Linked DNA regions of Homo sapiens. The protein of the gene in region 1 purifies or fractionates together with the protein of each later gene. This does not show direct contact. Each region holds a gene or a part of one and is shown in the gene's direction. Other genes may lie near its edges.

Region 1 (3,500 bases):
TTAAATAGATGATAGATTAGAGAGATACATAGATAGATGAGAGATAGATAGATAGGATAGATAGATACACACATACATATAGATAGATAATGGTGATGATAGAGAGATAGATCAATCAGATAGATAGATACATAGATAGAATAGATACATACATATGTACGTACATAAATTAGATACATATATACATACATACATAGATTAGATAGGTAGATACATACATACATACATGGATAAATAGATTAGATAGATAGATACATAGATACATACATAGGTGCATTAATAGATTAGAGAGATAGATGATAGATTAGAGAGATACCTAGATAGATGAGCAATAGATAAGATAGATAGATATGTACATACATATAGATAGATGACAGATAGATAGATAGATAGATAGATAGATAGATAGATAGATAATGGTGATGATAGGTAATAGAGATAGATAGATACATACATAGATACATGGATACATAGATAGATAGATAGATAGATAGATAGATAGATAGATAGATAGATAGATAGATAGATCATACATACATACATACATACATACATACATAGATGCATAGATACATAGATACATGGATACATAGATGGATGACGGAGAGAGAGAGAGAGAGGAGAGATTCTCTATACTAAAAGCAGGATCTTTCCACGTCAACACTATAGACATTTGGGGCCGGGTGATTCTCTGTGGTGGGGCCATCCTGTGCAGTGTAAGGTATTGAGAAGCATCCCCGGGATCCACCCACCAGATGCCAGGAGCACCCCCACAGTTGCGACAACCAGAACTGTCCTCAGACATTACCCAGTGTGCCGTGATGAGAAAAATCACCCCTAGTTGAAACCACTGTCAAATGGTAGGCAGATAAATGATAGAGATGAGAGATAAATGCTAGAAAGGTATAGATAGATGACAGACAGAGAAGATTAATAAATAAATAGATATAGGTGCCAGAGAGCTAGATATGATATATAGATAAATTGATAAATGATAGATATGATAGATAGATATAGATGGATAGATAGTCACTAACAGAGACTCTCTCATGCTCAGGCAGGGTGTCAGCCTCAGCACTGCTGCCATGTAGGGCTGGAGGATTCTCTGTGTTGAGCCTATCCTGTGCACTGCAGGGCACTGAGCATCTTCCCAGGCTCCACCCACCACGCCCCAGGAGTACACCCTCCAGTTGTGACACCCCAAACTGCCCAAGATATAGACAAGCATCCCCACTGGAACAGAATCTCCCGCAATTCTGAACCACAGGGTGAGAGGCAGGCAAGATAAGACAAGATGATCCTTCCAGAGACCTGGAAGGAGAAGCAAGATCATGTCCCATCCCCCAGGTCTCAGGGAGAGAATGGGCTGGGTCAAGGGACTCTGGATCACTTCCTTCCATTTCTCCATCTCCCAATGTGCTGTATGCATGCTCTTGTTACTATAATAAAGTAAGTAGAATTGAAGAGACTCTGTCGTTACAAGCCACACATGTGTAGATTAAGCAGATATTCCCTGTGCAGGTCAGGTCTCAGGGGAAATGGAGGATTTATTCTCCACCTTTCCAAGACCAAGGGCCCCGCTGTGTGTACGTGTTATTCTCATCAAACATGCTTATCTGCCCGAGGACTAAATGCTGGCTTCCACATGTGACATTTTTACTTGCAAAACTGGATCAATGGGGAGCGTCATTTATACTGTCCCATGCAACAAAGGGAACTGAAAAAGTGCAGGAATGAGGAGACTCAAATCCACGCACATTCAGAGACTCCAATCCACACTCAAAGAGACTCAAATCCAACTCATTCAAAGAGACTCAAGTCCACACTCATTCAAAGAGACTCAAATCCACACTCATTCAAAGAGACTCAAACCCACACGCAATCAAAGAGACTCAAATCCATACTCATTCAAACAGACTCAAGTCCACTCATTCAGAGACTCAAACCTACACGAATTCAAAGAGACTCAAATCCACACTCATTCAAAGAGACTCAAGTCCACAATCATTCAAAGAGGCTCAAACCCACACGCATTCAAAGAGACTCAAATCCACACTCATTCAAAGAAACTCAAATCCACACTCATTCAAAGAGACTCAAATCCACACTCAATCCAAAGACCAGAGCCAGCCTCTTGGAAGCACTTGCTCCTCCGGGCTTCCCTGGGACGTTTAAAGTGGTTTTGAAGATGTCGTATGAGGATGAATGCAAGACTTTGAGTTCACACGGTGCTGACTGGCAGCGCCTGCTGCTCAGAGCTGTGATGGCCTCCTCAAGGGGCAGTTGTGCAGCAGTAGCTCTGATGGAATCTCCAGGAACCCACTCTCCAGCAAGGAGCCCTGTCACATGCATACCTGCATGAGCCTCTCAGCCAGTGGTTGAAATGGGCATGTTGCAGACAGCCTCTCTGTGAGATGCAATAGATGAAACCTGAGGCTCAGTGAAGCTGGAGGCCTCCCAGGCACTAGCTGCTCAGTGAAGGCGCTGTTGTCCATCTACAGTGTCCATATGTCCATCACAAGCTCTTGGCATGAACACAGGAAACTTCTAGGATACTCAGGCTATTACCCTGGGGTTGGAGGCATTCTGTCTCCAGGTATTTATTTATCACTCATCTGTTCTTGGGGTGGAGGAGAATGAGACTACTCCTGCACTCAGGACAGGGACAGACCAGCAGGTGGCCACACGTGGAATAGAAACAGGAGATACCCCTTCAGTCTCAGCCACAGGGAATGAATGAGCAGGGTCCCTGTAGGGGCTGTGACTTTGTAGATGAGAGACCAGAATAGATTAACATGGCCTCAGTACTGTTTGTTGGATGGTTGAATGGATGGCTGCATAAATAGATGGGTGAATGAATAAATGAATGAATGAGTGAATGAGTGGATTAGTACATTAGTGAGTGGATGGATGGATATGTAGACAGGTGAATGAAGAGTGGATGAATGGATGAATGGATGGATGGATGGATGGATGGATAGATGAGTAAATGGATAAGGAATGAATGAGTGGATGAATGAATGAATGAAGGGATGATTGGATGGATGAATGAATGAGTAGATGAATGAATAAATGGATGGATGGATGAACAGATGGATAGATAGGTGGATGAATAAGGAATAAATGATTGAATGAATAGATACATGAATGGGTGAATGATAGTGGGTGTATTGATAAATGGGTGGATGACTGAATGGATGGATTGAAGGATGAACGGATGGATGGATGAGTGGATGGATAAGGAATAAATGAATGAATGAATAGATAAATGAATGAGTGAATGAATGGATCATGAATAAATGAATGGGCAAATGAATAGTGGATGTATGGATAAGTGGATGGATAAACGGATGGATGGATGGATGGATAGATGAGTGGATGGATAAGGAATGAATAAGTGGATGAATGAATGAATGAGTAGATGAATGAATAAATAGATGGACGGATGAACAGATGGATAGGTAGGTGGATGGATAAGAAATGAATGAATAGGCTGGGCG
Region 2 (3,500 bases), on another chromosome or scaffold:
TCTGTCCCGGGCGCAGTTAAGGTAGATCACAATGCCTCTGTCCACATGTGTGTGGATATGTATTTACTTATTATTTATTATTTATTTATTTATTTATTTTTTTTTGAGACAGAGTCTCGCTGTGTTCCCCAGGCTGGAATGCAGTGGCACGATCTCGGCTCACTTCAGCCTCCGCCTCCCGGGTTCACATGATTCTCCTGCCTTAGCCTCCCAAGCAGCTGGGATTACAGGCATGCACCACCACGCCTGGCTAATTTGTGTATTTCTAGTAGAGACAGGGTTTCACTGTATTGGCCAGGCTGGTCTCGATTTCCTGACCTCAGGTGATCCACCTGCCTCAGCCTCCCAAAGTGGTGGGATTACAGGTGCTAGCCACTGCACCTGGCCGTTTGTGGATATTTAAAAACACAGTCCTAAAAAACTGTTGGGACAGAGAAGAATCAGAATGAAAATGAGAAAACCTCCGATCCAACAGTGGCAAACACGACGATAGGAAAGGTGTGTGCTGGCCCTGGTGCTCCTCAGAGGATGTGGGAGGGTCAGGCACTCGTCTGGAGGAAGGTTGTGAGCCGAGCACCCATGGAAAGAGGGAGGAAAAGTGGGAAGAAGGGCATGCTGGAGACTGGAGCTGGGGTGGGTGCGGAGAGAGGGCCACTGTGCTGCGGTCCACAGTGAGAAAGAAGCCGCCAGACGGAGCCACGATTCAGTGGAAAGTAAAGCTGCAGGTGGCCTGGCTTGCTGGGAAATGTCTGTAGCCTTTGGGGTAGTCGTGTGGGACACAGCGGAGCCAGGACTGGAGTGGCTGGTGGGCTAGTGCTGAGGCCTGTGGGGCAGCCTGTTGTATTAAGGGGACCATCTGGTGGGGTGCTTGTCCGCTGTGGGAACTTTGCTGAGGGTGGATCGCTGGTCCCTGGCAGGGCCGACCCTGAGAGCTCTGGGTTCCTCGTGGTCTTCCCGGTGTCCCGAGGCTTTGGGGTGACCCTGCCCTGGCCCCGTTCTGACCGTACCGCCTGCCCCGGCCAGTGCTGCCCACGGTGCTGCTGGATGAGATCGAGGCGGCCGAGCTGGAGGGCAACGATGACAGGATCGAGGGCGTGCTGTGCGGGGCCGTGAAGCAGCTGAAGGTCACCCGCGCCAAGCCTGACAGCACCCTCTACCTGAGCCTCATGTACCTGGCCAAGATCAAGCCCAACATCTTCGCCACTGAGGGCGTCATTGAGGTTTGAGCCGGGCCCCTGGCAGGAGGCGAGCAGCGCTGGGGCCCTTGGCTCCCCTCCTCACCTCCCCCTTAAGTGTCCCTCCCGGCCCACCCCAGCTTTGCCTCTGGGGCCAGCGAAGCTCCCACGTGACATGCGCCCTCCCTGGCAGGCTCTGTGTAGCCTCCTGCGGCGGGACGCCTCCATCAACTTCAAGGCCAAGGGGAACAGCCTGGTGTCTGTGCTGGCCTGTAACCTCCTCATGGCCGCCTACGAGGAGGACGAGAACTGGCCCGAGATCTTTGTCAAGGTGAGCGTCCTCTCCCGGGACGGTGAAGATGGCAGAGCGCCACGGGGTGGGGCAGGGGCGAGAGAAAAGCAGAAGTGTGTTCTCTCCAGAGGGCTGTGTCTGACAGCCCTGGTGGTGATGGCACGGTCCCTGCTGCACCCAGAAGCTGGAGAGGGCCGCCTGGGCACCCAGTCCCCGGGCAGCAGGCGGGTGTTCCCCAACCTGGCTGCTGCCCGGCTGGGCTCGGGGCTGAGGGTGTGGCTGCCACACAGGTGTACATCGAGGACTCCCTGGGGGAGCGGATCTGGGTGGACAGCCCTCACTGTAAGACGTTTGTGGACAACATCCAGACGGCCTTCAACACCAGAATGCCCCCCAGGAGCGTGCTGCTGCAGGGGGAGGCGGGCCGCGTTGCGGGCGACCTGGGTGCAGGTGAGACACACGGCCAGCCAGAGAGGGCGGGTGTCCAAGCCCCAGGGCAGGGGAGGGGTGGGAGGATGGGCGGGTGGGAGGCGCTGCATGGAGCCCTCTCCTTGGTTTGCAGGGAGCAGCCCACACCCCTCCCTCACGGAGGAGGAGGACAGCCAGACGGAGTTGCTGATCGCGGAGGAGAAGCTGAGCCCCGAGCAGGAGGGCCAGCTCATGCCCAGGTAGCTGCGTGCCTGCCCGGTCCCAGTTGGGGGCGGCGGGGGCGGGCGCCTCGGGGCCACCTTCCTCCCTCCTCGCTCCCTCCTCTGGCCTAGGTACGAAGAGCTCGCGGAGAGCGTGGAGGAGTATGTCCTGGACATGCTGCGGGACCAGCTGAACCGGCGCCAGCCCATCGACAACGTCTCCAGGAACCTCCTGCGGCTCCTCACCTCCACCTGCGGCTATAAGGAGGTGCGGCTGCTGGCGGTGCAGAAGCTGGAGATGTGGCTGCAGAACCCCAAGGTGCGGGGGCGCCCCGGGGGGGTGGGCGGGGCAGGGGGTGGGGGCAGGCTCTGTGTGGCCCCACAGCGTGGTCTTCCTGCCGGGGTGGCCGTGAGCCCACTGCTCCCTCCTCGGCCCCGCAGCTGACCCGGCCGGCCCAGGACCTGCTGATGTCCGTCTGCATGAACTGCAACACGCACGGTTCCGAAGACATGGACGTCATCTCACACCTGATCAAGATCCGCCTCAAGCCCAAGGTCCTCCTCAACCACTTCATGCTGTGCATCAGGTGCGTGGCGAGCCGGGGCAGAGCGGGGGTGCGGGTGGAGTGGGGGTGTGGGTGGGGGTGTGGGCGGAGCGGGGGTGCGGGCGGAGTGGGGGCACAGGCGGAGTGGGGGCACAGGCGTAGCGGGGACAGGGTCTGTACCCTCACCTCACCCAGGGAGCTGCTGAGCGCGCACAAGGACAACCTGGGCACCACCATCAAGTTGGTGATCTTCAATGAGCTCTCCAGCGCCCGGAACCCGAACAACATGCAGGTCCTCTATACCGCACTGCAGCACAGCTCAGAGCTGGCGCCCAAGGTAGGCCCAGGGTCCCTGGCCTTGCCCTCCACGCCGGAATATGGGGCTCTGGGCTGGAGGGGCACGTGGCGTCTGGGGAGGCCGGTGGATTGGCAGTGCTTCGTGGGAGAATGCTCCTCGGTCTCGGGAAGGAGCTTTTGAAACTCACGTGGGCATGAGGTTGAGCCGTTTCTAGAGTGGGTGCAGCCACAGCGCCCAGCGTCTTTCTCAGAAACTGACACTCTGTCCATTTAGGAGGGAGCCACATTGAGTCTTAAAAGCCACCCAGGTTTCTGAGCTAAGACCCAGACCTGTTGCCTTCTGTTTTTATTTTTCAAGCTCATTCCTGCCTTTGGATAGTAAGGTAGTTTTTAAAAATTTTGTGGAGACCGGGTCTTATTATGTGGCCCAGGCTGGTCTCAAACTCCTGGGCTCAAGCGATCCTCCTGCCTCAACCTCCCAAAGTGCTGGGATGACAGGCATGAGCCCCTGTGCCTGGCCCAGACCCGCCTCCTGTGCATTGGGTCCCTCGGTTAAGCAGGG
Region 3 (3,500 bases), on another chromosome or scaffold:
GTTACATCAAAAGACATGTTTCACCATGCACAGACTACCCAGTTTGCCCCATCCCTGTTCTGGGTTCTAGAGATAAACAAAGGTCAATAAGAACTCCCAGAGCTGCCATCACTTAATGGCAGGGGTCCAAGCACAACTGAAACCTGTGCCCTCTGTGGTAAAGCCAGTGAGCAGAGTCAGGGCTGCATCAGAGAAGGAGTAGGAGGGAAGAGACAGAAAGAGGCCTCACTAGACCAGTGGCCTCTGAAAATAGGGCAAAGGAGGCCTCATATCCCAATCCACACTTCCCCTGTCCATTACTCATTTCTCCTCAGTGTATTATGTTTCTCTGTGGTTTTTTTCCCTTCTTCGACAAGTTGGAATTCCACTGCTTGGAATCCATGAGGGATTGGTTCCAGGACCCCCTTCGTTACCAAAATCTAAGGATCCTCAAAGGCCCTGATATGAAATCGCATAATATTTGCATATAATCTGCGCACATCCTCCCATATACTTTGAATCAACTCTAGATTACTTATAATACCGAGTGCAATGTAATTTTTATACTGTTTTGTTTTTAAATTTGTATTATTTTTATTGTTGTATTGTTATTTTTATTTAGCTCCAAATATTTTCGATCTGAGGTTGGTTGAATCTATGGACATGGAATCTGTGAATATGGAGGGCCAACTGTACAAATAAAAATCACCACACATTACATTTCCTAAGTTTGTTTTTTGTTTTGCTTTTGAGACAAGATCTTGCTTTGTCACCCAGACTGGAGTGCAGTGGTGCAATCACAGCTCACTGCAGCCTTGACCTCCCAGGCTCAAGCGATCTCCCACCTCAGCCTCCAGAGTATTTGGGACTACAGGCGCGTGATACCACACCCAGCTAATATATATATATGTATATTAGAGATGGGGTCTCACTATGTTACCCAGGCTGGCCTCAAACTCCTGGGCTCAAGTGATCCTCCTGCCTCAGCCTCCCAAAGTGCTGGGATTACAGGCATGAGCCACCGAGCCTGGCCAAATTTCCTAAATTTTTAATGTACTGAGATTTTGAAATTTACATTTCCCACAATTGATTTATTCAGAAATGCCTAGTAATACATTCCTATTGCTTACTCTGCAATTGGCTTTGAAAAGAGGAAAGGAAATAAATGAGATATTTGTTGAGCACCCGCTATGTTCCAGGCACTGGCCTAAGTATATTAAAGCACAATCTCATCTAAATATTAAAACAGCACCGAGATAGGAATTCAAATAAGGATTCAAACCCAAATTTGGCTGGCTCCAATGTGCATGCTTTTTTCAATACACCACCCTTCCTTCCCAGAAGACCCCTGTAATGTCACACAAGGGTTAGCAATTGCCTGGCTTCCTCTATAGAGATTCATGCCTAATGTTGAGAAAGAAAATCTTAAGACTGGATGGAAAATCCATAATGAGTGCTTTACTTTGTGTTCATAATATACTTTTGGATGGTATCAAGTATGGGAATGATTTTACCAAAATGCCACAGGCAATTTTTATTTATTGAATCTTGTCTATTTGAACTTTGAGATTATTTGCAAGCTTCTCCCCAGGCTCGAGTACAAGAGAAAATAATTTGCTGTTGTATTGATTCAAGGATTGGCGATCTATCCAGGGAAAGGAAGGCCAAGTGGGGACAACCTACTGAATGTGGCCTCCAGATCTGCGGCTTTGGCTCACCTATCCTGTGATGATTTTCCTTGCTCAGGAAATAGGATGGGACTGCAGTCCCTGGGAGCCACAAGGCACCCAACCTGATGCCCCACCATGTTGCAGGCACTGCCAGGGGCATTGTGATTGCCACAGGAGACCGGACGGTGATGGGCCGCATAGCTACTCTCGCCTCAGGCCTGGAGGTTGGGCGGACACCCATAGCAATGGAGATTGAACACTTCATCCAGCTGATCACAGGGGTCGCTGTATTCCTGGGGGTCTCCTTCTTCGTGCTCTCCCTCATCCTGGGCTACAGCTGGCTGGAGGCAGTCATCTTCCTCATCGGCATCATAGTGGCCAACGTGCCTGAGGGGCTTCTGGCCACTGTCACTGTGAGTGGGTCAGGCTGAGGTGCCACCAGGGGAGGGTCTCACTACTCTTTCCTCAGAGTGATAGAGGCACAGTTGCTTGTAGCTTCTCACTACTTTTTCCCCCTAGAGTCACTTATTGGATGCGATACTCAGAGATCACTTAATACATGGCTTAGGGTATGAGTTGAGAAATCTCAGGTGGGGCTATTCTTAGGCACTCAGTTTCTCTTTTGGAGCTTGTCACGGCTGCCTTTTCTCACGATCTGCCAGCAGTCTGGGTCTCATTCCGTCCAAGTCTCCTGTAGAGGCTGTCTCAAAGGTCACCAGTCACTAACTAGCAAATCCAGGGACCTTTTCTCAGCTCTCCTCCCTAACTCTGCTGCTGAAACAGATACTGCTGTCCACCCTCCTACCATTCTCTCTTTTGTCGATTGCTGTGATGTGTCACTATCCTGGTTCGCCTCTCCTCTGTCCCTTCCTGCTCCCCCTACACTGATTCTCAGGCCTCAGCTGTCTGTTCTTCCTACACCCTGAGCAAGAGCCAATCTCCTCCCAGTTTGCAGTGTCCCTTCTGTGTTGATGACTCAGACATCCCTATGCTCAGCTCTGCTCTGGCCCTCTCTGGAGCTCTAGTCAAACGTCTTAAACCCCCTAATGGGCATTTCATCTTAACAGATACTCATGATCTCAACACATCTAAAATTGAACATTCATTATTTACAGCTAAGTCCCACCCATTCAAGTTAGTGGAGTAGAATCAGGGGAGGAGGAATGGAGCCACGGTCTAGGGTAAGGTTATGGCCATCTCCGGCTTCAGCCTTAACCTTTTTTATTCTCCTCTTTCTCTACCAGGTGTGCCTGACCCTGACAGCCAAGCGCATGGCACGGAAGAACTGCCTGGTGAAGAACCTGGAGGCGGTGGAGACGCTGGGCTCCACGTCCACCATCTGCTCGGACAAGACGGGCACCCTCACCCAGAACCGCATGACCGTCGCCCACATGTGGTTCGACAACCAAATCCATGAGGCTGACACCACCGAAGATCAGTCTGGTGATTGGGTGCTCCAGAGGGGGTGGATAGGATTAGAGGAGGCTGAGGGCAGTGGCGTGGTGGGGTGAGTGGTTGAGATAAAGGCTCTAAAGGGAGCCACGCTCCTGGTTCCCCCTCATTTCCTCCCAGGGGCCACTTTTGACAAACGATCCCCTACGTGGACGGCCCTGTCTCGAATTGCTGGTCTCTGCAACCGCGCCGTCTTCAAGGCAGGACAGGAGAACATCTCCGTGTCTAAGGTAGGGGGTCAGGACACACACCAGGTATGTTTTGGGGGTGTCTCCAAAGCCTCTTGCTGGCCCCAGCTTTCCTTCTCACATGATGTGGCTGCCTTGGGGGTTTCAGTGCCGCCTTCACCTGATCCTCCACTCCCTTCCCTCCCATGCTGACACTGAATTCTTGTCTCTT
Region 4 (3,500 bases), on another chromosome or scaffold:
CAGAAAGAAGTATAATTCTAACCAGGTGTCAGAATCTCAATGGGTCATGGAAAAAAGGATGTTCTAAGAATGATTAGAACTTGCATATACAGAGATTGAAAAATAGAAAGCATAATGAGTATAAAAGAGCTTTTCAAGCAAAGTATCTATACTTTAGGAAGATTAATCTTACAATTAATAAAGTATAAAAGTCAAGCAGTTAAATATGGAGGCTGTTGCAGTGGTATAATCAAGAAGAGAATAGCGGACCTGAAATAAGATTTTCTGGATGTAAAATTGACTGAGCCTAGCACTGAAATATTGGCAGTGATATGGAATCATAAATAACAACCAGGTTCTGGTCCTACAAAACCGGGAGGAAAGTATTGCTATTAACCTAGAAAGGAAAATTTTTAGAGAGAGTCAGGTTGTGGAAGGAGATTGGGAACACATAATAAATTTAGTTTCTAACATGTTGACTTGGTGGTATTGTATCGTGTACATGTATATATATATATATATATGTATGTCTTACTCAGTTCAGGCTGCTATAACAAGAATATCATAGGCTGGGTGGCTTAAGACAACAAAAATTTATTTCTCAGTTTTGGAGGCTGAAAGTCCGAGATCAGGGTGCCACCATGGTCAAGTTCTGATGAGGATCTTATTCCTGGTTTACACATGGCCATCTTACATTTTTGAAAGAAAGCAGCAGCTCTCTTCTGTCTGTTTTTATAAGGGCATTAATCCCATCCTGAGGGCTCTACCCTCATGATTTAATTACCACATAAAGGCCCTATCTCCCACTATCCTCCCATTGAGGGTTAGAGTTTCAGCATTTAATTTTGGGTAGACACAAACACGAAGTCCATAATAATATACAGCAGTAAGTAGAAAACATGAAGGAATTTAAAAGAGAAATCAGAGCTAGAGACTGCCTTGAGGATAGAAATTGAATGTTGAAACCATGGCAGCGTATGCTGAAGATCATTCAGAGTGAGCAGAGCTAGAACTCTGCCAAAATCTCTTACTTAAGGGAGTTAGTGGAGAAAGGAAAACCTGATTCTGATCCTAGAAAACTGGGAGGGAAGGGATAACAGAAAAGAACAAAGAAAATGTATAGGTTCTAGGAAGAAAGTTTTAAGAATGACAGGGATAGTGTCTATATAAAAATGAGATTAAGGAATGTGATTAAGCAGTAGCCTTTGGGTTTGGAAACCAGTACATGACTAGTATCCTGGAAAAGCAGTTTTTTTAGAGTGCTGGGACTGGAAAGAGTGGGAGGAAATAATTTATTCTTATATATATGAATAATAGATGTATTAATAGTTCTGAACAGTAGTCTCAGAAATAGCACTTACACTACTAAAACAAGTCTATCGTGCTATTCAAGTAGAATGCAAGTTTTTAAAATGTAGGATAAATCTATAACTCAAAATAAGCAACCAGCATAGAGTTGGTATTGTAGTTTATGATTTGCGCAGATGGGGATTTAACTCTTTTTTCCCCACTGTATGTGATTAAAATGTATCAGACTCATCTTGAGTACATATTCATCATAAATTGTAAAGCAAATGCCAGTTTTCTAAACCTTTACTTAAACTATTTGATTACATGTAATTTTTATTTTTACTTAATGAAAAAAAATGATGGATCATAAACTCTTTTGTTTTTCTAGATTCCTGGATTTTGTGAGAATGAGAAAGGTGTTGTCCCTTGTAACATTTTGGTTGGCTATAAAGCTGTATATCGTTTGTGCTTTGGTTTGGCTATGTTCTATCTTCTTCTCTCTTTACTAATGATCAAAGTGAAGAGTAGCAGTGATCCTAGAGCTGCAGTGCACAATGGGTAAGTTTTTAAATAAGCTTCAATATAAAAGCTTGGGTAGCCTCTTCTTGATAATTGCCAGTTTATCCAAGGAAACTTTAAGGTAAAATAAACTTATACAATTTGCAGAATTACTTTATTCATGAATGACAGGATAAGAAAATCTTGTTTTTACTGGAGAATGTCAGACTTTGGATATTAAATAATAGCTGTGATAACCTCTGATCCACAGTGTTTTATATTTTCATACTAAAAAAGAGGCTCTATTATATTTGTGACTACTAAGGGAATAGCTATTTCTCCTTCTACTGTTAACTTTAGGTGGACCAGTCCACTTACATAGAACTCTCAGTTCCCTAGACCCAGAGAGCAGATTTTTCTAGGTTGGTTGTATTGGACAACCCAGAAAGAAACTTCAGGGTTTCTTTTATCAATCTTCCTTCATATAGAGCACTACTTCTGGTACCCTTATTTGACTGTTTTAATATCTGCTGTTGCTTATCTAGTTATATGTGCTACCAAAGACAAAAAGTATAAACAAGTAGAATATAAATATTAATGAGAAAATATGTGACGGGTTGCTTTTCCTTTATTTTGTTCCTTTGGTCATTGATTATTTTATTAAATTATTAGAGTTTTAGATGGAGGCATTTATCATGTGTTTATAAAAACTATTCATTTATACAGTTCACCTTATACTTTGATACATTATCCCACTTATGTGAAATAAGCCTGTGAAATGGAACTAACATTCTCATTTTTCCATAATGAATTAGTGAGAAATACATCTTTCTCAAAATGGTCTTAAAAGCAGTTTATGTAATTGTTGTTTTTTCTGATAATCAAGTGTATTAGGGTTCTCTAGAGGGACAGAACTAATAGGATAGATAGATATATATAAAGGGGAGTTTATTAAGTATTATCTCACATGATCTCAAGGTCCCACAATAGGCCATCTGCAAGCTGAGGAGCAAGGAGAGCCAGTCCTAGTCCCAAAACTGAAGAACTTGGAGCCTGATGTTCAAGGGCAGGGAGCATCCAGCACAGGAGAAAGATGTAGGCTGGGATGCTAGGCCAGTCTAGTCTTTTCACTTTTTTTTTTTGCCTGCTTTATATTCTAGCCCTGCTGGCAGCTGATTAGATGGTGCCCACCCAGATTAAGGGTGTGTCTGCCTTTCCCAGCCCACTGACTGAAATGTTAATCTTCTTTGGCAACACCCTCACAGACACACCCAGCATCAGTACTTTGCACCCTTCAATCCAATCAAGTTGACACTCAGTATTAACCATTACAAGTCAGTACTTTGCATCCTTGAATTCAATTGACACTCAGTATAACTATCAGAAGTCTACCCATTGTCAACTTGAACCCGTATACATCTCCTGAGATCATACATAATCTGCAAATAAAGACAATAATAAGGTCATACAACTAACCTTACAACTGAAAACGCACCAGTCCCCAACCAAAATACTAATTACATAAAGTTAACAATACTTAAATGCTGATGTGAAGTCAGTAAATCTTATGTCACATGATAAAGGAGAATGGAAATAAAATGAAGATATTTTCTTAGTACAAGTATATGCATGCATGAACATGTTTTTGACAAAACAAGGAGGAAGTACTCACAACAATTACAGCCCTCGTTTCTGCAGCTGGACATGTGGTCATAGCTGGTATTGATGACTGC
Region 5 (3,500 bases), about 150 Mb from region 1:
TGGTGGGCACTGAGGGACACTGAGGCACTGCGGACAAAAGGCCCAGCCCAGCTTCACTCCCCCTTACTCCCATGCCTCAGTTTCCCTGGTGGCATGGAGATCACAGAATACTTATCTCTGGGGAGGGGTGTGAGGGTTCCGTGGGTGAATCCACATCCATAGGAGGCTCTCCGTCCACACAGCTTCTGTTATGATCATTTCCTTCGTCACCAGCCTCCCATGCAGTGGCAGCACCTGGCACTCACAGCCCCACTGGCTTCTTCCACCATGCCCGCCTCTGTGACCCTCGGCTCCTTTGCTCCCTCCTCTCCCCACCTGAATCCTCCCAAGTCCTGTCCCTTTTGAGAAGCTCCTGGAGTCATGAGCGCTCTACTGAGGCTGTGGCTGCCTGGACGTGGTTATAGCGATTGTCCACAGACTTCAGTTTTTGCCCAGGTTCCACCCGCTTGCCCTATGAAGTCTGTGGTGGAGCTGCCATGAGCCACATGCTCCTGCCTCCCTCCCGGTCTCTCAGCCTGCAGCAGTGCATGAGCGTCCTGGTGCCCTCAAGCAACAGAAATGGATTCTCCCCCAGTTCTGGAGGCCGGAAGTCCAAAAGCAGGGCGTGGGCAGGGCCGAAGCGCCTCCAAAGCATCTCAGAGAGGATGCATCCTGCATCCTCCAGCTTCTGGTGGTGGCTGCCAGTCCTCGCGTTCCTCAGCTTGCAGCTGACCCTCTCTAATCTCTGCCTGTTGTCACACGCCCTTCTCCCTGTGTGTCTGTGTTCTCACACGGGGCACTCCTCTCTGATAAGGACCCCAGTCCTTGACTAAGCCCCCAATCCAGTGTGACCAGCGCTGTTCCTTGTTGTTCTCTCCCCACCTCCACCTCATCTCTGCCCACCCCCTGCCTAGGTGCACCAACATCTTGAACAGCAATGGCGAACTCCGGGGCTTTCGGCCTCGGGACCGGGACGACATGGTGAGGAAGATCATCGAGCCGATGGCTTGCGATGGCCTCCGCACCATCTGCATCGCCTACCGGGACTTCTCTGCAGGCCAGGAGCCCGACTGGGACAACGAGAATGAGGTCGTGGGTGACCTCACCTGCATAGCTGTCGTGGGCATTGAGGACCCTGTGCGGCCCGAGGTAGCCACCACCTTCTCTGTGAGCTGCCCTGGTAACTGTGCCCTCTGCCCGAGCTTGTCCGGACTGGTAGGGGCGGCCTTCCTTCACACACAGCTGCTGCGGTCCCTCCGTAGTACACTTGAGCCCCGTCCTGGGTGCTCTCACCCTGACACCCGCACAAAGGCTCTGTCCTGCCTGCTGGAAAGCCCTTCCCGCTTGACCTATGGGCCCAGCTCAGGCTCCACCTTCTACCAGGTGAGAAGGTGGCAGTGGCGGAGAGACCGTCGACATTTGGGATCTGATCCACCCAGGACCGATGGACTGGAGGTGGTGCTGAAGCCTGAGGGGACACAGGTTTGGGGCACAGGGTGGGCGTTTATTGGTTGAGGGTTTGGCTGGGGCTACTCTACGGTCAGGACGTCCTGTGGCGAGCTCACAGCAAAGGTCCTGGCGGGAAAGGGAGCCCAGAAGCATATCCCCATATGGACGATGCCACCAGGGGAGTCCAGATGAGGGGACCTCGAGGGCCGCGTGGCAGATGCCATGGCCTTGACACTGGGAAGTCACTTTGTTGTTGAAAGATCCCAGACCCTGGAGAGTGTGGAGGATGGCCGGCCCCGGAGGGAGAATGCAAGGCATGGGGTGCCCCTCTGTCTCCCCAGGGCCTCTGCATGGCACCCACCTGTGTCACAAGCAGGGCCACTGTGACCCTGACAACTTGTCTTTGTAGGAGCCACCCTGGGGGTGCAGGTGCAACCTGGGAGGAGAAGCTTCTGGGCTCTCCTTCGGGAGACAGGCATTCATGTATTGGATCATGTAGCAAAAACACTCAATTCAAAGACAGTGCGTCTAAACGCCAGCCATGGCTCATGTCAACAGAGCAGCCCCGTGCCCCGAGGAGAACATGGTCACTGCGCCCAGAGAGGGAGCACCTCGAGCTTGCCCTGGGAGAAAATGGGTGGTAGCGGAGGACAGGGGACAGAAGTCCAGCGAGGGAAATGGGCCCCGCAAAGGCGGGCAGCGGCATGAGTCCCGGGCCCCACTGAGCCTGGGAGAGCAGAAGGAGAGGGTGCTGGTGAGGCGAAGCAAGGCCACACTTGGGGACAGGAGCCATCGAGTCCCTCTGTTGGACCAGGGAGCAACTGAAGCACAGAGCAGAGGAAGGAATCTTGCCAGAGGGGCCTGGGGAATAGGGACAGCTCCTTTCCAGCTTAAGAGTGGCTGAGAGAGAGTCCAAGGGGTAGACCACAGTGACAGGGCCAGGCTGCGGAGGCTGGGCAGACCCCCACAAAGACTGGCCAGCCTGGTGGTGGCTGAGGAGGACGCACAGAAGGCCCAGCGAAGTCCTGGGTGCCGGCAACAGGCAGTAGGACACAAGGGCCTCACTGAAACCGCCAGGGTGCTTGGAGATGCGGCACGGCTGCAGCCAGAGGAGGGCCCGTGAGGCTGGGCCCTGGGGAGCCATAGGAAGCCTGTGGCTGGGGTGGTATTGATGCTGGAGCTGGGCCGGCCGGGGGCACTGGCAACTTCTCCAGACACCTGGCTGGCTGCTGTGCTGTGGGGCCTTGGGGAGAAGGCAGGGAGCAGGGCTGAGCAGGCGAGGAAGGACAGCCTGGCCTGGCCCTTTGGGGCCATGGGGAAGGAACTGGGCTACACACACTGGGCCTGAGGAGGGAGGAGGCCTGGGTTCGCAGCTGCTGGTTTTCAGGCTCGTCACGGCCACTTGGTGGCAGCAGAGGGGTGGCTTCCAGACTTTTCAGGGACAGGCATTCGCTGGCTCAAAGGAGAATTGTCTTCTTGTGGCTCGTGATCTTGTTATCCAGCACCCCAAGATCCTCAGAGAGTACGAAGTGTCCCCGAGGCTGGCAGTGAGGCCACTTAGTGGTATATGCTGCAGGAACCATTGGATCACCCTGTCACAGCTTAGAGTGGGGCCCCCAGCTGTCTCCCTGGCAAAGATCACAGCCCCCCTGCCCATGGCCTCAGGGGGCGCCAGGATTCAGGGACTCCCAGGTCAATGTCCTCCCCTGGTGTCTCCCGGCTGCCCTACCCCTGGCTCCCACTCCTGCGTGTCTACTCCCCACCGCCGCAGGCTCCCCAGGCCTGGCGGCTCGGCCACACCTAGGCTTCTACACTTACCCGACGGTGCTCACAAGCCCCACTGCCTAGGCTTGACCTCCTCATTCAGGTTCCCAAACTCTGAACCTGGCTCCTCTTCTCCTCTCCCCCTGCCCGTCTACCTCAGTGGCATCAGCTGCCTGACCCTGTCTCTCTGTCCCCGAGCCTGAAGAGCCACATACCTCTTCATTTGGGAACTGTCTTCCCTGTCCCCCCACCACTGGGACAATGCCACCACCTCCCGGCCAGTCTCCTGGCTTCCCGCTCTCAACCCC
Region 6 (3,500 bases), on another chromosome or scaffold:
TGTTTTTTTTCTTCAGCACTTTATGTCATGCTACTCTCTCCTGGCCTGTAAGGTTTCCGCTGAGAAGTCTACTCCCAGATGTGTTGGAACTCTTTTGTATGTTGTTTGTTTCTTTTCTGTTGATGCATTTAGAATCCATTCGTGCTTCTTGTTGTTGTTGTGGTGGTGGTTTAATAGAAATGGGGCCTTGCTGTGTTTAACAGGCTGGTCTCCAACTCCTGGCCTCAAGTGATCCTCCCATCTCAGCCTGCCAAGGTGCTGAGATTACAGGTGTGAGCCACCGTGCCTGGCCTGTTGTTGTTTTTAACAGAGACGTCATTTCTCTACGTTGTCCAGGCTGGTCTTGAACTCCAGGGTCAGGCAGTTCCCCCACCTTGACCTCCCAAAGTGCTGGGATTACAGGCATGAGCCACCACGCCCAGCCAGGATCCATTCTTTACCGTTGACCTTTGGGAGTTTGCTTGTTACATGTCTTGAGGTAGTCTTATTTGGGTCAAGTCTGCTTGGTGTTCTATAATCTTTTGTTCTTAAATATTGGTATCTAGGTTTGGGTAGTTCTTTGTTATTGCTTTGTATAAACTTTCTACCGCTGTCTCTTTAGCTACTCCTCTTTAAGGCAATGAACTCTTAGATTTGCCCTTTTGGGGCTATTTTCTAGATCTTGTAGGCATGCTTCATTCTTTTTCATTCTTTTTTCTTTTGTCTCAGCTGTGTATTTTCAAATAGCCTGTCTCCAAGCTGACTAATTCTTCTGCTTGTTCAGGTCTTGTGTTAAGCTCTGAGGCTGGGTGAGGTGGCTCATGCCTGTAATCCTAGCACTTTGGGAGGCTGAGGTGGGCAGATCACTTGAGACCAGTCTGGGCAACATGGTGAAACCTTGTCTCTACAAAAAATACAAAAATTAGCCAGGCATGATGGCGCACGCGTGTAGTCCCAGCTACTTGGGACACTGAGGTAGGAGGATCCTTTGAGCCTGGGATGCAGAGGTTGCAGTGAGCCAGGATTGCACCATTGCACTCCAGTCTGGGAGACAGAGCAAAACCCTGTCTCAAAAAAATAAAATAAAAAAGAGGTTTGGATGCATTCTTCAGTATGTCAGTTGCATTTTTCGGATCCAGGATTTCTGCTTTATTCTTTATAATTATTTCAGTCTCTTTGTTCACTTTATCTGAAAGGATTCTGAATTCCTTCTCTGTGTTATCTTGAATTTCTTTGAGTTTCCTCAAAACTGCTATTTTGAATTCTCTGAAAGGTCAGTTATCTCTGTCTCTCCAGGATTGGTCACTGGTGCTTTATTTCAGTTTGTTTAGTGAGGTCATGTTTTCTTGGATGGTCTTGATGCTTGTGAATATTTGTTGGTGTCTGGACATTGAAGAGTTAGGTATTTGTTATAGTCTTTGCAGTCTGGGCTTGTTTGTACCTGTCATCCTTGGGAAGGCTTTCTAACTATTTGAAGGGACTTGGGTGTTGTGATCTTGGTCACTGCAGCTGTATCTGCATTAGGGACATTTCAAGCCCATAATGCTGTGGCTCTTGCAGATTTGTAGAGGTACTGCCTTGGTGCTCTTCGGTAAGATCCAGGAGAATTCCCTGGATTACCAGGCAGAGACTCTTGTTCTCTTCCATTACATTCTCCCAAACAAATGGAGTCTCTGTCTCTGTGCTGAGCTGCCTGGAGCTGGGGGAGGGGGTGACACAAGCACCATTGTGGCCACCATCCCTGGGACTTCACTGGGTCAGACCTGAAGGCAGCACAGCAATGGGTCTTGCCCAAGGCCCATTGTGACTATTGTGTGGTTATTGCCTGTGGTCAGTCAAGGCCCAGAGGTTCTACAATCAGCAGGTGGCAAATCTAGCAAGTTCCCTCTGGCCTTGGGTGGGTCCAGAGATGCTCTCTGGTGATCCGCCTGCCTTGGCCTCCCAAATTGCTGGGATTACAGGTGTGAGCCATCACACCTGGCCTTTGTCTCCTTTACTCAAGCAGGAGACTCTCCTCATAGCCACAACATCTGGGAATGTGCTGGGTCACACCTGAAGCCAGCACATTTCTGAATCTCACCCAAGGCCCATAGTGAGTACTGCCTGGCTACCACTACTGCTTATTCAGAGCCCAGAGGCTCTTGAGTCAGCACGTGATGAACCCTGCCAGGACTTGGTCATACCCCTCAAGACAGTGGGTTCCCTTCCAGCCCAGGGTGTGTTTAGAAATCTTGTCTGGGAACTGGGGACTGAAATTGGGGCCTTAGGGCTCTGCCTTATGCCGCATTCTACTTTGGCTGAGCTGGTATCCAAATTGCAAGACAAAGTCCTCTTTACTCTCCCCTCTCCTCTCCTCACGCAGAAGGAAAGACTCTCTCTCAGAGCTGTGAACTACACTGCCTGAGCTTGTGTAGGGGGAGTGACACTAGCAGTCCCTTGGCTGCCCCAGCTGGAGTCTTACTATATCATATGCACCCCAGGTCCACTGGCTCTGAGCCCAGCCCAGCACCAGGACCTGCCCAGGAATTGCAGTCCTTGTGGCCTAGATGGCCTTTCAAGTTTATTCAGGACCTCAGAGCACTGTAGCCCATGGTGGCAGGACTGGCTGCCTAGGGCTGGTCTAAATTCTTCCTCCATGGGTGCTGGCTGAGTTCTTTCCACTGTGGCAGGGCAGCGCTGAGTTTCAATGCAAAAATTCCACAGTCACTGCTTTCGACTTCCCTAAGCACATAGATTGTCTCTCCACACCATGTGGTTGCTGCTGAGAGGATGGGGGAGGGGTGGTGTAGGTGATTCAAGACTGTTTTTCACATCCTCTTCAGTGCCTCTTTCAGTGATCTGAAGTTAAAACCAGGTACTGTGATTGCTCACCTGATTTTTGGTTCTTATGAAGGTGGTTTTTTATGTAGATAGTTGTCAATTTGATATTCCTTGGAGGTGGTGATCACTGGAGGCTTCTATTTGGCCATCTTGCTCTGCCTCCTTCCCAGTTATGAATGAATCTTGTCAGTGGAAAGTTGAGATGAGCCAGGCACGGTGGCTTATGCCTGTAATCCCAGCACTTTGGGAGGCTAAAGTGGGCGAATCACCTGAGGTCGGGAGTTCGAGACCAGCCTGGCCAACGTGGTGAAACCCCGTCTCTCCTAAAAATACGAAATTAGCTGGATGTGGTGGCGCATGCCTGTAATCCCAGCTACTCGGGAGGCTGAGGCAGGACAGTTGCTTGAACCCAGGAGGCGGAGGTTGTGGTGAGCTGAGGTCGTGCCGTTGCACTCCAGCCTGGGCAATAAGAGCGAAATTCCTTCTCAAAAAAAAAAAAGAAAGTTGAGATGAAAGACCCTATATGGACTTCTAACAAACTCTTATCTTTTCCTTCTTACTCTTAAACCACAAATTAGTTTTTTTTTTTTTTTTCCTTCTTGAGCTGAAATACAATTTAAGCTGGTCAAAGTAAAATACTGGATAAAATTGTTTCTTCAGCTGGATGTGGTGGCACACACCTTGTAGTTTCAGCCACTTGG
Region 7 (3,500 bases), on another chromosome or scaffold:
TTTCACGCTCCCCTTTATGGAGTTGGAACAGGGAAAAAGTAAAATATTTCTACTCCTAACTAACATTAAACAGCTTTGTGCCAACACATGGGTAGGGAGAGTGCCGTGCCCACTGGCCGTGCATCAGCAACTGGCTCATCTGCTGTCAGTGTTTAACGTCAGCTCACGGGTGCCTGTGGCTGTGAAACAGGAAGCACATGCTTCAGCCTCCTTAAGCCTGAGGTGACATGCAAGTGGCAACCGGGGCCGTTTCACTGGTGAACCCGTTCATGTCTTTGTGAAGAAAGTTACATTTCAGGTCATGGTTGTGAAACTCTTTCCCTATTTTTATTATTTTTTATTATTATTTGAGATAGGGTCTTGCCCTGTTGCCCAGGTGCAATCTCTACTCACTGCAGCTTCAACCTCCTGGGCCCAGGTTCTCCTCCCACTCAGCGTCCTGAGTAGCTGGGAAGTCAGGCATGTGTCACCACGTACAGCTACATTTTTGTGTTGTTGTTGTTGTTGTTGTTTATTATTATTTTTTTGAGACGGAGTCTTGCTCTGTCTCCCAGGCTGGAGTGCAGTGGCGCGATCTCCGCTCACTGCAAGCTCTGCCTCCAGGATTCCCGCCATTCTCCTGCCTCAGCCTCCCAAGTAGCTGGGATTACAGGTGCCCGCCACTATGCCCGGCTAATTTTTTGTATTTTTAGTAGAGACGGGGTTTCACCATGTTAGCCAGGATGGTCTCGATCTCCTGACCTCGTGATCCACCCGACTCGGCCTCCCAAAGTGCTGGGATTACAGGCGTGCGCCACTGCACCTGGCCTCCCCCATTTGTAAACGCTGATTTGTTCAGATTTTGAGACAGCTCTGTGTGAGGAGTGTCGTGCCGGCCCCTCTTGGTGGTGGCTGGGCTGCTGCTGTTGCCACTTGTCTGGAAACCATTTGTGAGTCGGAGTCTTGCTCTGTAAACCAGGCTGGAGTGCAGTGGTGTGATCTCAGCTCACTGCAACCTCCGCCTCCCGGGTTCAAGCAATTCTGCCTCAGCCTCCCAAGTAGCTGGGATTACAAGCGCCTGCCAACACGTCCGGCTAATTTTTGTATTTTTAGTGGAGACAGTGTTTCACCATCTCAGCCAGTCTGGTCTTGAACTCCTGACCTCGTGAACCACCTGCCTCGGTCTCCCAAAGTGCTGGGATTACAGGCATGAGCCACCACGCCTGGCGTGTTTAAGTTCTTTTAAAGCAACTTCATATATTAAAGGGATTCGTGATATTTTCCCAAATTTGTGTTCATAACTATTTTTTATTCCCTCACATTAGCAATTTAAGTAGCAAAGATATTTAACGTAAGTTAAAATAGTTTATTATTTTGTAATTAGGAAATACTGGACTAAGTGATATAGGATATGCTTTATTTCATATTTATAAATCTTATGGATATAAGTAGGTTTTTCAGATGGTTTTTGTTTTGCTTTGGTTATTTAGGAGTACACTGTTGTCCTGTATGCCTCCCCTGTGGTTGCAAAACTTAATTGTTAAATCCTTTCTCTATTTCTCATAGGTGGTACTTTCTATTTTAACACCTCAAGGTTGAAGCAGAAGAATAAGGAGAAGGATAAGTCGAAGGGGAAGGCGCCTGAAGAGGACGAAGGTATATTCATCTGATGTTCTTCAGTCAGTAGCTGCCTCTGGATGTCTTTACATTTCTGTTTTCCTTTTAGCAAGGTGAAACCAGTCTGGAAAATGGGGAGATGGGCCGGGTGCAGTGGCTCACACTTGTAATCGAAACGCTTTGGGAGGCCCAGGTGGAAGGATCACTTGAGGCCTATACCACATAGCGAGACCCTGTCTCACTGCAAATTAAAAGGCTGGGCGTGGTGGCTCACACCTGTAATCCCAGCACTTTGGGAGGCTGAGGCAGGCGGATCACCTGCACCCTGGCCAACATGGTGAAACCCCGTCTTTACTAAAAATAGAAAATTAGCCGGGCGTGATGGCACACGCCTGTAATCCCAGCTACTCGGGAGGCTGAGGCAGGAGAATTGCTTGAACCTGGGAGGTGGAGGTTGCTGTGAGTGGAGATCATGCCATTGCACTCCAGCCTGAGCAACAAGAGCAAAACTCCATCTCAAAAAAAAAAAAATTTAAATTTAAATTTAAAAAGACCCTATCTATACAGAAAGAAAAGAAGAAAATAATTGGCCAGGCGTGGTGGTGTGCACCTGTAGTCATAGCTCAGGAGTTGGAGGAGCTTGAGCCCAGGAGTTGGAGGCTCAGCTTCAGACTCACAGCCCCAGGGGGCAGAAGGGTTGAACTCAGCTTCAGGAATGCTTTGCTTTTGGATCCTTGAGGCCTCTCGCTGGAAATCAGCGTTGTTAAGATGGACGCCCTGCTCAGCAGAGCTCATCTTTCTAGAAAGGCACCTGGCCTTGGAAGGCGAGTGAGGAACTGTCATAAGGACTTTTTCTTCCCATGTTGCTTTTCAGGAAAGCTTTCAGGATGTGGAAATGATGGTTCAGCTATTGGATGAGGGGATTATTATTGTGAATTCGAGTTTAGCAGGAGTTTGTTTCAGGAGTGACGTCCTTCTTGATTGATTTTGTGTGAGACGCTGCATTTGCCAAGGCCAGGGACAGCTTTACTCTGTGAGAGAGGAGCTCTGACTCTCCCTACTGAGCTCTCGAGGGGAGGTCATAACTGCGGGAAGGGACACCAGTGTTTCGCAGGTGGATTCAGTTTAGGCGTTTCTGGCTTTAGGCTCATCTTCAGCTTACTGTTGGTTTTACGGTAAGTGTCAATGCTTACAGCCACTCAGAACTATCTTCTAAAAGACTTCTGAATCTTCATACAAAATTGTTCTGAATTGATTTCAGGGCTCTTTCCCTGTATACTTCAACATTTCAATAAAGTGTGTCCTTTGACTTTTTTTTTTTTTTTTTTTTTTTTTTTTTTTTGCCAGAATCTCACTCTGTTGCCCCGGCTGGAGTGCAGTGGTGCGATCTCAGCTCAATGCAACCTCCCCCTCCCGGGTTCAAGCAATTCTCCTGCCTCAGCCTCCGAAGTAGCTGGGATTACAGGTGCTCACCACCACACCCTGCTAATTTTTTGTTTTTTGTTCGTTTGTTTGTTTTTGAGACGGAGTCTCGCTCTGTCGCCCAGGCTGGAGTGCAGTGGCACAATCTCGGCTCACTGCAAGCTCCACTTCCTGGGTTCATGCCATTCTCCTGCCTCAGCCTCCCTAGTAGCTGGGACTACAGGCACCCGCCACCGCACCCGGCTAATTTTTTTGTTTTATTAGAGACTGGGTTTCACCATGTTAGCCAGGATGGTCTCGATCTCCTGACCTTGTGATCTGCTCACCTTGGCCTCCCAAAGTTCTAGGATTACAGGCGTGAGCCACCGCGTCAGGCCCTCTTTTTGTATAGTAGAGATGAGGTTTTGTCTTGTTGGCCAGGCTGGTCTCAAACTCCTGACCTCAGGTGATTCACCCACCTTGGCCTCCCAAAGTGCTGAGAT

What was found.
Region 2: the proteins of P2RY8 (region 1) and INTS1 purify together in Homo sapiens (co-immunoprecipitation; 2 studies listed by BioGRID and IntAct, with this or other methods). This does not show direct contact.
Region 3: the proteins of P2RY8 (region 1) and ATP1A2 purify together in Homo sapiens (affinity purification with mass spectrometry; 3 studies listed by BioGRID and IntAct, with this or other methods). This does not show direct contact.
Region 4: the proteins of P2RY8 (region 1) and SERINC1 purify together in Homo sapiens (affinity purification with mass spectrometry; 3 studies listed by BioGRID and IntAct, with this or other methods). This does not show direct contact.
Region 5: the proteins of P2RY8 (region 1) and ATP2B3 purify together in Homo sapiens (affinity purification with mass spectrometry; 3 studies listed by BioGRID and IntAct, with this or other methods). This does not show direct contact.
Region 6: the proteins of P2RY8 (region 1) and ATL2 purify together in Homo sapiens (affinity purification with mass spectrometry; 3 studies listed by BioGRID and IntAct, with this or other methods). This does not show direct contact.
Region 7: the proteins of P2RY8 (region 1) and SPG7 purify together in Homo sapiens (co-immunoprecipitation; 2 studies listed by BioGRID and IntAct, with this or other methods). This does not show direct contact.

Annotation. Positions count from the first base shown.
Region 1 is NC_000023.11:1,527,186-1,530,685, reverse strand, and holds part of P2RY8 (S-geranylgeranyl-glutathione receptor P2RY8), read left to right. Parts: intron 1-3,500. UniProt on the Homo sapiens protein: G protein-coupled receptor for S-geranylgeranyl-glutathione (GGG), an endogenous metabolite present in lymphoid tissues.
Region 2 is NC_000007.14:1,497,890-1,501,389, reverse strand, and holds part of INTS1 (integrator complex subunit 1), read left to right. Parts: intron 1-1,023; coding exon 1,024-1,220; intron 1,221-1,368; coding exon 1,369-1,506; intron 1,507-1,757; coding exon 1,758-1,917; intron 1,918-2,029; coding exon 2,030-2,135; intron 2,136-2,228; coding exon 2,229-2,415; intron 2,416-2,537; coding exon 2,538-2,683; intron 2,684-2,836; coding exon 2,837-2,978; intron 2,979-3,500. UniProt on the Homo sapiens protein: Component of the integrator complex, a multiprotein complex that terminates RNA polymerase II (Pol II) transcription in the promoter-proximal region of genes.
Region 3 is NC_000001.11:160,125,759-160,129,258, forward strand, and holds part of ATP1A2 (sodium/potassium-transporting ATPase subunit alpha-2 precursor), read left to right. Parts: intron 1-1,793; coding exon 1,794-2,062; intron 2,063-2,627; exon of another isoform or gene 2,628-2,637; coding exon of another isoform or gene 2,638-2,763; intron 2,764-2,893; coding exon 2,894-3,092; intron 3,093-3,221; coding exon 3,222-3,331; intron 3,332-3,500. UniProt on the Homo sapiens protein: This is the catalytic component of the active enzyme, which catalyzes the hydrolysis of ATP coupled with the exchange of sodium and potassium ions across the plasma membrane.
Region 4 is NC_000006.12:122,454,808-122,458,307, reverse strand, and holds part of SERINC1 (serine incorporator 1), read left to right. Parts: intron 1-1,657; coding exon 1,658-1,827; intron 1,828-3,500.
Region 5 is NC_000023.11:153,552,142-153,555,641, forward strand, and holds part of ATP2B3 (plasma membrane calcium-transporting ATPase 3), read left to right. Parts: intron 1-893; coding exon 894-1,128; intron 1,129-3,500. UniProt on the Homo sapiens protein: ATP-driven Ca(2+) ion pump involved in the maintenance of basal intracellular Ca(2+) levels at the presynaptic terminals. Uses ATP as an energy source to transport cytosolic Ca(2+) ions across the plasma membrane to the extracellular compartment.
Region 6 is NC_000002.12:38,300,774-38,304,273, reverse strand, and holds part of ATL2 (atlastin-2), read left to right. Parts: intron 1-3,500. UniProt on the Homo sapiens protein: Atlastin-2 (ATL2) is a membrane-anchored GTPase that mediates the GTP-dependent fusion of endoplasmic reticulum (ER) membranes, maintaining the continuous ER network. It facilitates the formation of three-way junctions where ER tubules intersect.
Region 7 is NC_000016.10:89,511,403-89,514,902, forward strand, and holds part of SPG7 (mitochondrial inner membrane m-AAA protease component paraplegin isoform 1 precursor), read left to right. Parts: intron 1-1,545; coding exon 1,546-1,635; intron 1,636-3,500. UniProt on the Homo sapiens protein: Catalytic component of the m-AAA protease, a protease that plays a key role in proteostasis of inner mitochondrial membrane proteins, and which is essential for axonal and neuron development.